3 separate regions of the Homo sapiens genome follow, and all the other regions are linked to region 2. The links come from fine-mapping of genetic effects on gene expression. Tissue or cell type: whole blood. Region 2 holds a variant in brackets; each other region holds the start of a gene. All regions are shown on one strand. Distances are between the middles of the regions.

The links. PIP is the estimated chance that this variant, and not a neighbour inherited with it, causes the effect.
Region 1: BCAS4 starts here. The variant in region 2 is fine-mapped to the expression of BCAS4 in whole blood (INTERVAL, PIP 0.91).
Region 3: it holds the start of ADNP, and the variant in region 2 is fine-mapped to the expression of ADNP in whole blood (TOPMed, PIP above 0.99).

Annotation. Positions count from the first base shown.
Region 1 is chr20:50,793,424-50,796,035 of GRCh38, forward strand. BCAS4 (breast carcinoma amplified sequence 4) reads left to right here and starts at 1,638. Exons shown (of 5, transcript NM_198799.4): 1 at 1,638-1,750. The coding sequence starts at 1,661. RefSeq lists a silencer at 1,371-2,190.
Region 2 is chr20:50,878,462-50,881,216 of GRCh38, forward strand. It overlaps a transcript of BCAS4 not described here. Among named protein-coding and RNA genes, the nearest start is that of ADNP-AS1, 51 kb to the right of the region's middle. RefSeq lists enhancers at 919-1,420, 1,421-1,920. The variant C/G (reference allele first, on the strand shown) is at 1,180.
Region 3 is chr20:50,930,149-50,932,760 of GRCh38, forward strand. It overlaps ADNP (activity dependent neuroprotector homeobox), which reads right to left and starts at 1,289. Exons shown (of 6, transcript NM_001282531.3): 1 at 678-1,289. ADNP-AS1 (ADNP antisense RNA 1) reads left to right here and starts at 836. Exons shown (of 3, transcript NR_110009.1): 1 at 836-906; 2 at 1,227-1,301. RefSeq lists enhancers at 118-908, 1,328-1,447 and silencers at 508-687, 828-877, 1,028-1,247, 1,547-1,734, 1,598-1,777.

The sequences.
Region 1 (2,612 bases), 85 kb before region 2:
GAGGAAGGTGTGGGACGTCCTATATATTTATTTGCACCCTTGATACCAGCCCCTCCTTTTTAAAAAACAACAACAACAACAAAAGACAGAGTTTCACTGTGTCACACAGGCTGGAGTGCAGTGGTGCGATCATAACTCGCGGTAGCCTTGAACTCCTGGCCTCAAACAATCCTCCTGCATCTGCCTCTCCAGTAGCTAGGACTACAGTTGTGCCCCACCACATCCTGCAATTTTAATTTTTTTTTTTCTTTTAGAGAGATGGAGTCTCCTTATGTTTGCCCAAGCAGCTCAGCCTTTTTTTTTTTTTTTTTTTGTGAGGCGATTTAACATTTAAAGAAAAGTCAGCAGGCAGGGGGCGCTGGCCCACGCCTGTAATCCTAGCACTTTGGGAGGCCGAGGCAGGTGGCTCACCTGAGGTCAGGAGTTCGAGAGCAGCCTGGCCAACATGGCGAAACCCCGTCTCTACTAAAAAATACAAAAATTAGAATTAGTCGGGCGTGGTGACAGGCGCCTGTAATCCCAGCTACTCGGGAGGCTGAGGGAGGGGGAGAATTGCTTGAACCCGGAATGTGGAAGTTACAGTGAGCCGAAATCGCACCACTGCACTCCAGCCTGGGCGACAGAGCGAGACTCCGTCTCCAAAAAAAAAAAATTAATTAATTAAAAATAAAAATAAGTCATCAAACGAAAAATCAAAACTTCAGACTTGTCTTATACCTATTTGCCTTTTAGTACTTTCCTCATTAGCACTGTTGGGGTGGGAGATGAGGCGCACCTCGCTCTCTTCAGCCCCAAGGCTTGTAAAGGGTCTATCTAGGCCGGCCTCCGAGGGCATGGAGGGAGTGGGTGCGGTTGTGAAATGTAGTGCGCTCAATAGTTTCCTGGTGAAGTTTATTTTAAAATCCGCACCGAAGAGGAAGACGAGGACCGTCACACTCGGCCTTCCCTAAATTCCAGGACCCTCCGCCCGATGCAAACTAGATGCTTTAGTAGGATGGGAACGGGTGGGGGGCGGGCGGCTTTGGGCTTCCTCTAAGCTAGCGCCTCTCTAACCCGGACGCCCGTTAGAATCACCCGGGGAGTTTTAGAAACTACCGATGCCCAAGCCCCACTCCGAAGGATTCCAACTTAATCGGCCTGGTGCGAGGCCTGGCTTCCGGGCTTTTAAAAGCTTCCCGGGGATTCTATTTTACGGCCGGGTCCGGGGCCGGGAGCCTGTACTCTACCGGGATTCCGATGGGGAGGGGTGGCTTGCCCCAATAGTTCTCAAATTTAGCTTTGGGTCAACAATCTGGTTGGAACCACCTAACAAACATCAAAAGATCCTGATGCCCAGGTCTTAACCCAGAGACGGTGTGGTCCAGGCTTGGGAAATTCTAAAAGAGCTCCAGGTGACTGCCATCTGCAAGCGAGTTTGCAAAGCACTGATGCCCAGGTGCTGCGGGGGCGGGCGCAGCGCGCGCCGCTCGCCACTGGGTGGCGCTGCCCGCTCGGCCCGGCGCTCCTGGAGCTGCGAGCCGCGACCGCCGGGAGCGCACCTGCCCCGCCTCCGCCAGGCGGTCCGCGGGGCATGCAGCGGACCGGGGGCGGGGCTCCGAGGCCCGGGCGCAACCACGGGCTCCCAGGCAGCCTCCGCCAGCCGGACCCCGTCGCCCTCCTGATGCTGCTCGTGGACGCTGATCAGCCGGAGCCCATGCGCAGCGGGGCGCGCGAGCTCGCGCTCTTCCTGACCCCCGAGCCTGGGGCCGAGGTAGGGGACGGGGCTGTGGAGTTGGAGGAGAGGGTTCTCGCGGTTAGGGGTCCGGGCTCCGGACCCTCGGCTTCCCCGGAGCATCCTCTCGCTCCCGGAGTGGGGGGCCCGGGGATTCCCCCCTTCCTGAAGGGTGGCTGCGGGGCGCCACGCAGAGATGTGCAGCGGGTCGTCCCTGCTCGCTCCTCCGGGCGACACCGGGCCCCGGAGGCCCAGGCTCGCTTTCCCTCCCCACCCGGGTCCCCCAGCATCCGCCGGGTCCTCAGGCGCCGCCCTTTGCCAGGCCGGCCCTGGGAGAGGCGGACCCCGGGACCTCTGCTGCCCCGGCTACCTCCGAGCGGTGCCCGGGCCGAGCGGCGCCTCAGGCTGCGGCTGTGCGGGCCGCGCTGCGCTGCTGCAGCTCGGAGCGAAAACACCACGCCTCTGTCTGCGCTTTCTATTTTAAAAGCACCAAGTGAAAAGCAGATCTAAAACGAGACCCTCTACCTTCCGGCTGGAGGCATCTGTCGACGCTGTTGTGAAAAAGTTATTTGTCTGAGTTCACTAGGAGTTATTTACGGTCAGAAATTCAACCCATTCTCTTTTTAAACCACAAAAGCAGTACAGGAGTATTTAACATAAAGGCTATGCACCCCTTTCTCTTTTCTCTCCCACCCCAATTCTAGTTTTCTTAGAAAACCAGCATTAACTGTTTGGTATAAATCATTCCGGACATTTAAAATGCATTTACAAATGTAGATATCTGTATCTGCCTAGGCAGAGTATTGGCTCATGCCAGTGGTCCCAGCATTCTGGGAGGCTGAGGCAGGAGGATTGCTTGGGATGGGGATAGGGGACGGGGAAGAGTGAGGCTGCAGTGAGG
Region 2 (2,755 bases):
GCCCGGTCAGCATTTTTTTATTGAGGTGACTTTTACAATTTTTTTTTTCTTTAAATGAGACACCTGTCACCCAGCCTGGAGTGCAGTGGTGTGATCATGGCTCCCTGAAACCTCAAGCTCCTGGGCTCAAGTGATCCTCCTGCCTCAGCCTCCCAAGTAGCTGGGACCACAAATGTGCACCACCATGCCTGGCAACTTTTCAAATTTGTTTTATTTTTTGTAGAGACAGGGTCTCCCTATGTTGTTCAGGCTGGTCTTGAACTTCTGGGCTCAGGGGACCCTCCTGTTTCGGCCTCCCAAAATGTAGTGTTGGCACAAACCTTTATTGAAGTATAATTTATATTACAGAAAGGGGTGCCTAAGTGGTTCACTAAATTTTTCACAAACTGAGTGTATCTATTTAAGCCTCACCAGACTGAGCAACCAACATTATCAGCACTGAGCAGCCCCCTCATGCCCGCTTCTGGTCCATGCCCATACCCACCCCCACCCCAGGCTGACAGCATACTGACATCTAACCATATGGACTGGAGTTTCTTGTTTCTGTGCTCTGTATAAAGAGAGGACACACGGGATGTGTACCTACGGTGTGTCATCTCTTGTCTCTGGCCTCACCGGCTTGATGTTACCTTGGGAGGTGTCACTGTTGCTGTGTCACTGTAGATCATTCCCATGGCTGTGTTGTATTGGCTGGGACTGTTTTTATCGAAGGGAGCTTGGACACTCTGCATGCCCCAGTGTGCTCAGGGAGAGCACACGTTGGATGGAAAGTTGGCCGGGTGAGGTGGCTCACGCCTGTAATCCCAGCACTTTGGGAGGCCAAGGTGGGCAGATCACTTGAGGTCAGGAATTCGAGACCAGCCTGGCCAACATAGTGAAACCTCATCTCTACTAAAAATACAAAAATTAGCCAGGTGCTGTGGTGCACCCCTGTAATCCCACCTACTCGGGAGGCTGAGGCAGGAGAATCGCTCGAATCTGGGAGGTGGAGGTTGCAGCAAGCCAAGATCGTGCCACTGCACTCCAGCCTGGGCAACAGAGCGAGACCCTATCTCAAAAAAGAAGAAAAAGGAGAAAGCTAATGTTAATTTTTTAGACAAGCAGTTGAGGACACTCATTTCCGGAAGGGTGAGTATCTGCTGAGTGTTGGGCACTCCCAGGCTTCTTTCTCCTCCCAGC[C/G]CCTGAAACAGGGGCCAGGGAGAGTTGGAAGGAAATCCCATGTGATTAAGCCGCAGCAACGTTGAGTGTCCTAAAGCAGGGACCCACAGGCCCCACGCTAGGAGCATGGCCCTGAGGTTAGCCTGCCTGGCAGCACTGTCCGCTCCCATGCCTCTTAGCTGTGTGAGCTGGGCTTTTCACTTGCTCTCTCTGAGTCCAGCTGCCCCTGCGGTAAGACATGAGGATGGCTCTGGTCTGATGGGTTGTGGTGAGGGTGACATGAGGTGAGCTGTGTGCATGCTGGGCACACTGGCGAGGGGCTCTCAGTAATGGGAGGCTGCTGTTGCAGGGCCCGGGCTGTGATGGGGAAAGGGTTGATTGTCCTGCGTTTCTCAGTTGACCAGCGGCATCCGAGGGCCTGAACAGCGAGTGACTCAGGGACTGCCCTTACGTGTCAGAGTTAGAAGTCATGGGAGAATGGAGGCTGCTCTCTCTGGGTTTCCCTGTCCTGTTAGGAGGGGTGAGGTTGCACAGGAAATCTATGGGGAAAAGGTGACAAGTGAACTGGAAGTAGCCGTTCCAAAGTTCCTAGGATTTGCACTGCCAAACAATGAGCTTTAAGGGACGCTTGGAAACATCTGGGGAGAAGGAAGGCCGGGACACTGCGCCCTGCCATCACCAACCCCTAACCTCAGTCCTCTGAGCGGCTCCACTGTCCCTGTGCCAGGTGACTTCATGTGCGTCCTCATTAAAGCAAAGTGCCTGACATTTCCATTGTCCAGTCAATGATGTCCTCGGTTGCTGACTATTGATGGCCTCTAACCCCTTGGTAAGGGTAACTGCAGCCTAGGAAAGGGTGATCTGATCTTTCTCTTTTTTAAACAGAGACGGGGTTTTGCTATGTTGTCCAGGCTAGTCTCAACCTCCTGGGCTCAAGCGATCCTCCTACCTTGGCCACCCAAAGTATTGGGATTACAGTCGTGAGCCACCGAGGCCTGCCAGTCTTTTTCTTTTGTGGCTGATGTTGGACAGGGACACCAGTAGAAAGGTCACTGCAGATTTCTTCCCAAGAGCAAGGCTCTTCGGTCAACCCCCTTTCCCACTTTCCCAGCGGATGTGAACTTCGTGCTCACCAAAGCAAGAGGTTTCAAGGTAGCAGCCCATGGGGTTGTATCTGATTGGCAGAAATGTGTGGTTTGCCCTGAATTGTTTTAAGATGTTTTCATGTTGTGACAATTGGGTAAACTTCTGGAAAAAATAGAGCTCCATACCTCACTCAGCACACCTGGATTGTAAATCGATTAGGAGCTTAATGTATAAAATGAATCTATTGGCCGGGTGCAGTGGCTCACACCTGAATCCTACCACTTTGGGAGGCCAAGGTGGGTGGATCGCTTGAGCTCAGGAGTTCAAGACCAGCATGGGCAACATAGCAAAACCCCTTCTCTGTAAAAAATAGAAAAATTAGCCAGGCATGGTGGTGCTTGCCTATAGACCCAGCTACTTGGTGGGAGGTGGGAAGATTGCTCGAGCCAGGGAACTTGAGGCTGCAGTGAGCTGAGATTGTGCCACTGCACTCCAGCCTGGGTGACAAAGT
Region 3 (2,612 bases), 52 kb after region 2:
GCTCTCTGGATTTCCATTTTCTACCACCTTACTGCAAAGTTGGGGCTCAGAATGTTCGAAAGAGGTGCTGACCAGGCAGCTGAGATTGGGGAAAAGGGATGGTGGTGAACTGTGGTCAGGATAAGAGGAAAGCTGGCAGGTTGGGGAAGAAGGATTGCACAGGGGAGGCAAAGACTCACTCCATGCCATGCATGCTCCCCGCCCCCCCCAACCCCGTCCCCCCTCCCCCAGGTAAGGGTGGGCAGACCTGGCAGAAGGCTGGTTCAAGGCATGGGGGTGTGCGTGGGGGGGCTCCTTTTGGGGGTGGGGGGCGGACGGGATTAGTTCCAGGATGGGAGAAGCTCGGTTCTGGCTGGGGGAGATGCCCTTAGCTGCAAAAGCTCCGGGCGGCCAGGCAGAGTGCTGGCCTCGGTGGGCTCACAGGGCGGAGAAGGGGGTCGGGCTGCAGGAGGAGGCGCCTGGACCTCCGGAGCAGAGTCGGGTAGCGGTCCGTGCCGGGACGGGGGACCCGTCGGCGCCGGGGTGTGCAAAGGAGCGTGTGTGCGGCTGGAGGGCGGCGATGCGAACAACAATGCGCCCGCGCCCGGGGCCAGGCTGCACTGGCGGCCGCGCGGGCCGGGGTCGGGAAGCCAGGCAGGGCAGGGCCGCGGGTCCGCGCGCGGCGGCGCCGGGCTTACCTTGACTCGGCCTCGAGGCGCGCGCGGGGCCGGCGTGCTCGGGGGCCGGACAGCGGCGGCGGCGGCGGGCGGATGGCGGCGGCACGGCGGTGGCGGCAGCGGGGAGGGCGCGCCCGGGGCCTCGTCGCGCTCCGGCTCGGCGGACTCCGGCTCGCGCCGCGGCCGCGGGTGCTGCCGGGGGGCGCGGCGGGCGCAGCAGAGCGGCGGGCGGCGGCGGCGTCGTCGAGCGGTGCAGACAAAGGAGGGGCGGAGGGAGGAGACGGAGGGTGTGGGAGAGGCGGCTTCACCGGCGCGGGCGGCGGCGGCCGCGCTCCTCTCGCTCCTCAGCAGCGGGGACCGAGAGAGGGAGCTGTGTCTGAGAAGACGCCAAAATCCCCCTTAGCGCTGCCTGCGGGAGGGGGAGGGGGCACAAGATGGCGGCGGCCGGGGGGGGGGGGGCGGGAGTTCAGCTCATGGATCCCGGCGGGCGGCGGAGGGGAGACCGGGCCGGCGGAGGCGGCGGCGGCAACGGGCGGGGGAGGGGGCTGATCCCGCGTCTCCCCTCAGCAGACAATACAAGCGCCTCGGACCGAGTCCCCGAACCTGCCCTAGCCAAAATGGCGGCCGAGAAAGAGCGGAAGTGACGTAAGTGCCTCATTAGCATAAGAGGACTCATTGTCCAGCTAAATAGGGGGGGGCAGTGGGGACAGCACCCCTAACCCCCTTTTCCCCAGGGGGGGTTCCTCTTACTCCCACCCCTGCTTGCACCTAACTTTTCCTGAGGGAGGGTGCTCTCAGCACCCCCACCCCCGCTTGAGGGAAATTATATAATCCCCACTGAGGGGGGAGCTCTCGCGAGAACCAGGCGGATTTGCCATTGACCCACTAGGAGGCGCCGCGGATAATGGCCGCAGTGCGCTCCCGGGGCCCGTGTGCTCGGCGGGCGCCTTCCTCTGGCCGCAGCGCCGGCGGCGGAGGCAGAAGCAGCGGGCCGCAGCACGCCCAGCACTCAGTCAGGTGGCCGTGCTGGGGATCCCTGCGCGGGCCCAGCTGGGCCTGGACTACATCTGGCGGGAGGGGTGTGCGGGGCGGCCTGGGGCGGCTCCACGTGCTCAGATGCCCGCGCTTCCACGGCTGAGAAGCGGCGGGAAGGCGCCGGGACACCTGGCCGGTCGCCCCTGACGCCTCCTGCCTTAAATGAGGTGTGAGGGCCTCGTGCTTCACACAGCGACTTGAGATGAGACACAACCCCATGGATGCCTTAGCCCTTCCTGGTGGGGTATTCGGTGCAGAGGGGCCGAGATTTTATTAAGGTCCGCCGTTACCCTGTGACTTGACATTCTTCCCAGTCACAGTGATGGACTCTTCTCTGACCTGAATAAAAAAAAAAATGGGAATCCTAGTGCCTTGAGGCCACCCAACTGGTGAAACTTAAGGATGAGAAGTGATGTTGCCAATAGGGGCATTGGCTCTCTGCAAGATCCTTAAACAACACACTTTGTAGTCCTAGGGACATAGCTTTTGGTGCTCCCACAATCTGGGTAGCATAAGACAGCACATGGTTGCTTTGTAAATTTAGGTCAATCCCAACCAATACATTATCTCCTCAACATTTTTGAACCAACCTTTTAAAGTAGGTTGTTCAAAGTAACATTATGATTTAAAGTATCATTGGTTGGTTAAATGTATTGACAAGTAATAGATGTCAATAGTGAGGAATTAACCAAGCCTGTTTCCTTAATATGTGATCTTTAGGTAAATACACCTGTCTTTTGCTGTTTCTTTACATTTCAAGTTAACATAGTTTCAAGCCATACTTAACATCCGAAAATAATCTGAGTTCGCTGCAAGTAGTATAAATTGTGGTTACACATAGCTGTTCAACATCTAAGACTTCAGTTAGCCCTGTTTAACAAACTTTTATACAACACATTTCTGCAATTGTGATAAAATGTA